Linked DNA regions of Homo sapiens: region 1 is reported to be linked to region 2. Evidence: microRNA targets listed by miRTarBase, many of them from high-throughput screens and not tested one by one. Region 2 holds a microRNA gene; the other region holds the end of a gene's coding sequence.

What was found. Region 2 holds the annotated microRNA hsa-miR-149-3p (AGGGAGGGACGGGGGCUGUGC, at 1,434-1,454, shown strand). A microRNA usually pairs through its seed, bases 2 to 8, with sites in the 3' UTR of a target mRNA and lowers its output. Matches are read on the target gene's strand: a 7mer-m8 pairs with bases 2 to 8, a 7mer-A1 pairs with bases 2 to 7 and ends in A, and an 8mer does both.
Region 1: miRTarBase lists ARPC3 as a target of hsa-miR-149-3p. The part of its 3' UTR that is shown has no 7-base or 8-base seed match.

The regions. Positions count from the first base shown.
Region 1 is chr12:110,432,332-110,435,331 of GRCh38, forward strand. ARPC3 (actin related protein 2/3 complex subunit 3) reads right to left here. Exons shown (of 7, transcript NM_001278556.2): 7 at 2,492-2,886. The coding sequence ends at 2,824. Among named protein-coding and RNA genes, the nearest start is that of ARPC3, 17 kb to the right of the region's middle.
Region 2 is chr2:240,454,623-240,457,769 of GRCh38, forward strand. MIR149 (microRNA 149) reads left to right here and starts at 1,379; the gene lies at 1,379-1,467. The region is part of intron 1 of GPC1 (glypican 1); the gene reads left to right. GPC1-AS1 (GPC1 antisense RNA 1) reads right to left here and starts at 2,078. Exons shown (of 3, transcript NR_161169.1): 1 at 1,975-2,078. RefSeq lists an enhancer at 679-1,329.

The DNA of each region.
Region 1 (3,000 bases), not on the chromosome of region 2:
CCTGGCCAACGTGGTGATATGTTTAAAATAAAATTTTTTTTTCTTTTTTGAGACAGGGTCTCAACTCTGTCGCCCAGGCTGGAGTGCAGTGGTGCGATCATGGCTCATAGCAGCCTCGACCTCTAGCCACCAGGCCTGGCCCCAAACCTGTAATCTTGAAATGAATCAGGGTGGCTTTCTCTCCTTTCTGACATGTCTGTAACCCCTGTGGCAGAAGTTCCAACCCAAACACCAAAACTCTGATTCTGGGTTAAGAATTTTAATTTAGGACAGGTGCAGTGGCTCATGCCTGTAATCCCAGTGTTTGGGAGGCTGAGGTGGGTGGATCACTTGAGTCCAGGAGTTTGAGACCAGCCTGGACAACACAGCAAAACCTTGTCTTGCTGGGCGCTGTGACTCACACCTGTAATCCCAGGACTTTAAGAGGCCGAGGTGGATGGATCACTTGAGGTCAGGAGTTTGAGACCAGCCTGGCCAATATGGTGAAGCCCCGTCTCTACTAAAAATACAAAATTAGCCAGGCGTGGTGGCACAAGCCTGTAATCCCAGTTACTCAGGAGGCTGAGGCAGGAGAATAGCTTGAACCTGGAAGGCAGAGGTTCCAGTGAGCCAAGATTGCACCACTGCACTCCAGCCTGGGAGACAGAGAGAGACTCAGTCTCAAAAAAAAAAAAAAAAAGCAAAAAACAAACCAAACCAAAACAAAAAACACAAAAAAACATGATACCCCATCTCTACCAAAAATACAAAATTAGCTGGGCCTGGAGATGTGTGCCTGTAGTCCCAGCTACTGGGGAGGCTAAGGCGAGAAGATTGTTTGAGCCCAAGAGGTCGAGGCTGCAGTGGGCCGTGTTCATGCCACTGCACTCCAGCCTGGGCAACAGTGATACCCTGTTTCAAAAACAAACAAACAAACAAATTTTAATTAAACAAACAAAACCCCCCACGACACACCACCACCACTCTTTTGGCTTCAGGACTGTCCTTCTGTTTATCTATGGAGTAGGTTTTCACATATCCATTCCTTTTGCTGTGTGAACTGTGGTATTTAGCTAGCTTGTAATTCAAGTCTTTAAACAGATGCTCAAGAGCATTTAACCCACATATTAAAATCATATATTCACCCGTAAAAACAAAATGCAAATACTCTAATCATTCAAGTACTACCATAAACTCTAGGTTTTTTTTTTTTTTTTTGGAGATGGAGTCTCACTCTCTTGCCCAGGCTGGAGTGCAGTGGTGCAATCTCCACTCACTGCAAGCTCCGCCTCCCAGGTTCACGCCATTCCCCTTCCACAGCCTCCTGAGTAGCTGGCACTACAGGCGCTCGCCACCACGCCTGGCTAATTTTTTGTATTTTTTTAGTAGAGACGGAGGTTTCACTGTGTTAGCCAGGATGGTCTCGATTCTCCTGACCTTATGATCCGCCCGCCTTGGCCTCCCAAAGTGTTGGGATTACAGGCGTGAGCTACCGCGTCTGGCCGTTTTTTTTTTTTGAGACGAAGTTTCACTCGTTGCCCAGGCTGGAGTGTAATGGCGCGATCTCAGCCTACCGCAACCTTCGGCTCACCGTAACCTCTGCCTCCCAGGTTTAAGCGATTCTCCTGCCTCAGCCTCCCGAGTAGCTGGGATTACAGGCATGCGCCACCACGCCCAGCTGAGTTTTTTTTTTTTTTTTTTTTTTTTTTGAGATGGAGTTTCGCTCTTGTTGCCCAAGCTGGAGTGCAATGGTGCGATCTCGGCTCACTGCAACCTCTGCCTCTCAGGTTCAAGCGATTCTTCTGTGTCAGCCTCCCGAATAGCTGGGATTACGGGCGCGTGCCACCATGCCCGGCTAATTTTTGTATTTTTAGTAGAGACATTGTTTCATCATATTGGTCAGGCTGGTCTCAAACTCCTGACCTCAGGTGAGCCGCCTGCCTGGGCCTCCCAAATTGCTGGGATTACAGGCGTGAGCCATCGCACCCGGCCCGGCTGGTTTTTGTATTTTTAGTAGAGACCAGGTTTCTCCGTGTTAGTCAGGCTAGTCTCAAACTCCCGACCTCAGGTGATCTGCCCGCCTGGGCCTCCCAAAGTGCTGGGATTACAGGCGTGATCCACTGCGCCTGGCCATATTAGTATATTTTATTTCATACATATACACAGAGAGAAAAAAAAGAAAAAGAGAAAAGAAAGCACTGATATATGCTCTAACATGGATGAATTAGAAAACATTAAGTCAAAGAAGCTAGACATAAAAGGCCACATGTTGTATAAAAAATTCAATTTACATGAATTATCCAGAATAAGCAAATCCATAGAGACAGAAAGTAGATTAATACTGGGAGGAGGGGTGGGAGGGACAGGGGGCTTGGGGAGGAATGTGGGGTGGGGTGGCTGCTAAAGAGTGCAGGTTCACTACACCGGGGTGATGAAAATGCTCTGGATTTACTGGGGATGGTTGTAAAACTTCATGTATATACTAAAAAAAGTGAATTGTACACTTTAAAAGGGCATTATGGAATGTGAATTTTATCTCAAAACAAATTGTAAGTGAATGTCAAAGACTGGCAATAAAGTTTTTCTGACATGGAATGTTAGAAATTTCTTTATTATTACTTATTCTTATTAAGCGCCAGCTTTAATGCTGCAGAAAATTTCAAATCACCCTTGATAACCCACTTTCTTTTCTCCCACCCAAATTCTTGATCAAGAGTTTTTCAAGTAAAGACATGCTCTTCTCTCTTCTGTATAAAACTTTACGAAATAAAGGCAAAAGATTGTGTACATCTTGCTGGAAAATGCTGCCCAGGGCTCTGGAGACGGTGGCTGCCCGGGCTCCCTTCACTGTCCAGGTCCTGAAAGACTCTTGTTCATGAACTGTCTCTTCACAAAGCAAGTCCACCACTAACAAGAGAGAACAACACAGAATGAACAGCGGGGTCAAATTACAATAGAATTTGCATTTATTTAATAATAAAATTTCACATTAGTCTGGAATCTCTTATAAACTTTTTTTTT
Region 2 (3,147 bases):
CGTGGGAGGCAATGCAGGCTGACTGTCCACGCCAAATTCCGGTACCTTAGGCATTCGAGTCTGTTGACACTGAGTGTCTAGGACGAGGCTGTAAAGGTGGATAAAGCCGGCTTTACAGTCTGCACCTCCTGTGTGAGCCGTGGAAGCTTCTGGAGGGATGGGCGTGGCGTGGCGCCATCATCTCTCTGCATTCTCCTTGGGAGGGCTCCAGAGCCACTGGTCACGGGCAGCTGCCAGGCTGGGTCTGGACAAATGAGGTCTGGGTCCATCATTGGGGATGGGGGCCACTGTCAGGATGGGAGTCTCGCCTAAAGCTTTGGGGTGAAGGTGCTGATGACCAAGAGGAAACTGCGGGGTGGGGACATGTCAGCAGGGGACGAGAATGCATGACCTAAAAGGTATCCAAAGTTAAGGCTGGTGGGGGCTTAGTGAGGAGCAGCAGAGTGGGGTGGTCCAGAACCGTCAGGATCGGGAGGGGGAAGATGGAACGAGACAGCAGCTGCCTACGAGCCAGGGAGCAAGAGCTCTGTGCTTTAACCTGAGGAGCAGGAGCCTGGGAACTGGAGACTCTGGGTTTGAGGTGGGGGATGAATCTGCCATTAAACAAATAATCCCCTTCCCCCCCAAAAAAATCCTCAGAGCACTGGGGAAGGGAAGTGTCCCAGTGACTGAGGGAGGGGAGCGCTGTGGAAGGATGGGTCGGCTACAGCAACTTCAGCCCAGGGATCAGGGAAGAGAGGGTCCAGTCCCTGGCCCAGCGGGGAGCAGGCCCGGTGACCTTGACCTGAGCAGCCCCAGGGCCAGAGGGAGGGGTGGGCCGGAAGGGCCCAGATGCCTCCCTGCACGGGGGGAAGGGGATGGGCTGCCGGGACTCACCCCCTAGGTTGGAAAATGCCTCCCTCTGGGTTGGAGGAGGAGAAAGGCCAGGAAGGAGAGGGAGAGGGACATGGGGAGGGTTCCCTCCTGGCCTGAGGCCTCTCTATCCCCAGGTGTTGAGCTGAGAGAAGTGGTGGGGAGGCCCCTGGGGGTGGGGAGGCCCCTGGGTGGGGAGATTTAAGATGACAGCTGGTCTTGGGCACATTGCTCTCCATTCAGAAAGGCCCCAGCCCCTGGCATTCTTCCAGGAGGGGGCTTGCTTTGCCGCCCTGCAGGGGGACTCTGCAGAGCCGGCCTCTGCCATCTCATGTCCAGGACCACAACCTGTGGCCCCGGCCTGCGCCGGGCCGGAGCTCCGCAGAAGGAAGCCAGCGGGAGGCCTCCTGCCTTTGACTGCCGTGCGTCCAGCCTGCAGCGGGCCTCAGGGGGCCGCCTCGATCCAGCCTGCCCGAGGCTCCCAGGCCTTCGCCCGCCTTGCGTCCAGCCTGCCGGGGGCTCCCAGGCCGGCGCCCGAGCTCTGGCTCCGTGTCTTCACTCCCGTGCTTGTCCGAGGAGGGAGGGAGGGACGGGGGCTGTGCTGGGGCAGCTGGAACAACGCAGGTCGCCGGGCCGGCTGGGCGAGTTGGCCGGGCGGGGCTGAGGGGTCGGCGGGGGAGGCTGAGGCGCGGGGGCCGGTGCGCGGCCGTGAGGGGGTGTGAGAGGTGGCTGACGGCGCCGAGGAGCCCCTCAGAACCTGCAGGTGGGGGGAGCTCCCATATCTTACGGGTGTTTCGGGCCTCACCTCTCCATGCCTCTCGTCAGCCTCTCCCGTCTGCGTGGTGGGGGCTGGGGAGTGGGTCCGCCGGGACCTCGCGAGGGAGGGGCACAGGAGGAGCCGGCGGGGGACGCCACCCACCCTCCTCCCTAGGAGTGCTTGAGCCCTAGTCCTGAGTCTTGGACCAGCTCACTCGGTTCCTGTGGCCCAGCCAGCCTGGCCTGGGTGCCCCGTCACAGCTGAGCCCATCTCAGCTGAGCCCAGGGTGTGTCACCGGGAAGCTCAGCTGGCACCTGCCACCCCCTCCCCCAGGCACGTTTCCCTCCCACTGCCCAGCCCATTACCATCATGTGTCCGGCTGACCTGTGCTCTCCTGGTCTGGGCAGCCTGGATGGGTGCACAGGGCCCCATCACAGCCCACACCCTCGGAGAGACGCCTCCTGAGTCTGCTCAGCCTGGCACAGGCCCCAGGAAAGGACCCGGAGGGGCGGTTCCTGCTCTAAATCCTGCCCCCACGGGGGTGGGACTGGGGCAGAATCCCATCAGTGAATAAAGGCTGCAGAGTGAAGGATGGTCCCTGGCGAGTGTACCTGTGTCCCAGTCTTCTTGCCTGAGGGCGCCTTCCCACCCATGTGAGGAGTGGGGAAGGAGCACCCCTTCTCTACTAGGCCCCAGGGCTCTCAGAGCCGGGCTCTGTCCTCACCCCAGCTGGCTCCCACAAGGCCCTCCTGGCCCCAGACTCTGTTGGACCCCCAACTCCCCCTCCAGCAGGCATCTGGAGGTAAGGAGGGGCGGGGGGCGCAGGTGCACTTGCCATTCCCGCTCTGTCTGCAGCATGGGCACATGTAAGTCCAGGCCCTGGGGAATCCCTGGACCTGCAGCCCCTGCGGAGGACTCCCTCCCCCTCTAGCTCAAGCCAGAGCCCCCTGCATCAGTACATTCCAGAACTCAGACAGGAAAAGAGGGCAAGGAGGGAGCGCTCCAGGATAAGAACCCCTACCTCGGCCCTCCCTCGCTCTCCCAGGCCCCTCTGACAACCTGTCTCCTTGCTGTCATGTCAGCAGGCACAGAGGCTACAGGGGCCAAGCGGCAGCCGCCCAAGCCCGGATTCGGGTTCTCTGTTCCCTTCTCTTGTCTCGGGCTCCTCCCTGAGTGTGTGTACTTAGAGGGTGCGGAAGATCAGCAAACTCAGTCTGACCCAGGCATTCAACCTCTGGGTAGTTACCTAGTCCTGGGTCCCCACCCCAGATGGCCTCTAGTGGGTAAGGGCTTCCTGGACCCCAGGCCTGAGGGGTGACTTCTCTTGCAGTAAGCGGGTAGGGCACTGCCTGCGCTGCTCCAGGCCCTGCCTGCAGTGGGGCTACAGATCCCTGCTCCCACCTCCAGGCAGGGCTGGAGCTGCTGCCAGCTCCCCCAGGACAGCCTCGAGCCAGGTGCCTCTGCCCGGGCTGACCCCGCCCTCGGTCCCGGTCCTGGCTCCCTCTCCTGCCTCTCCTCCCTGGCCTGGCCTTCACTTC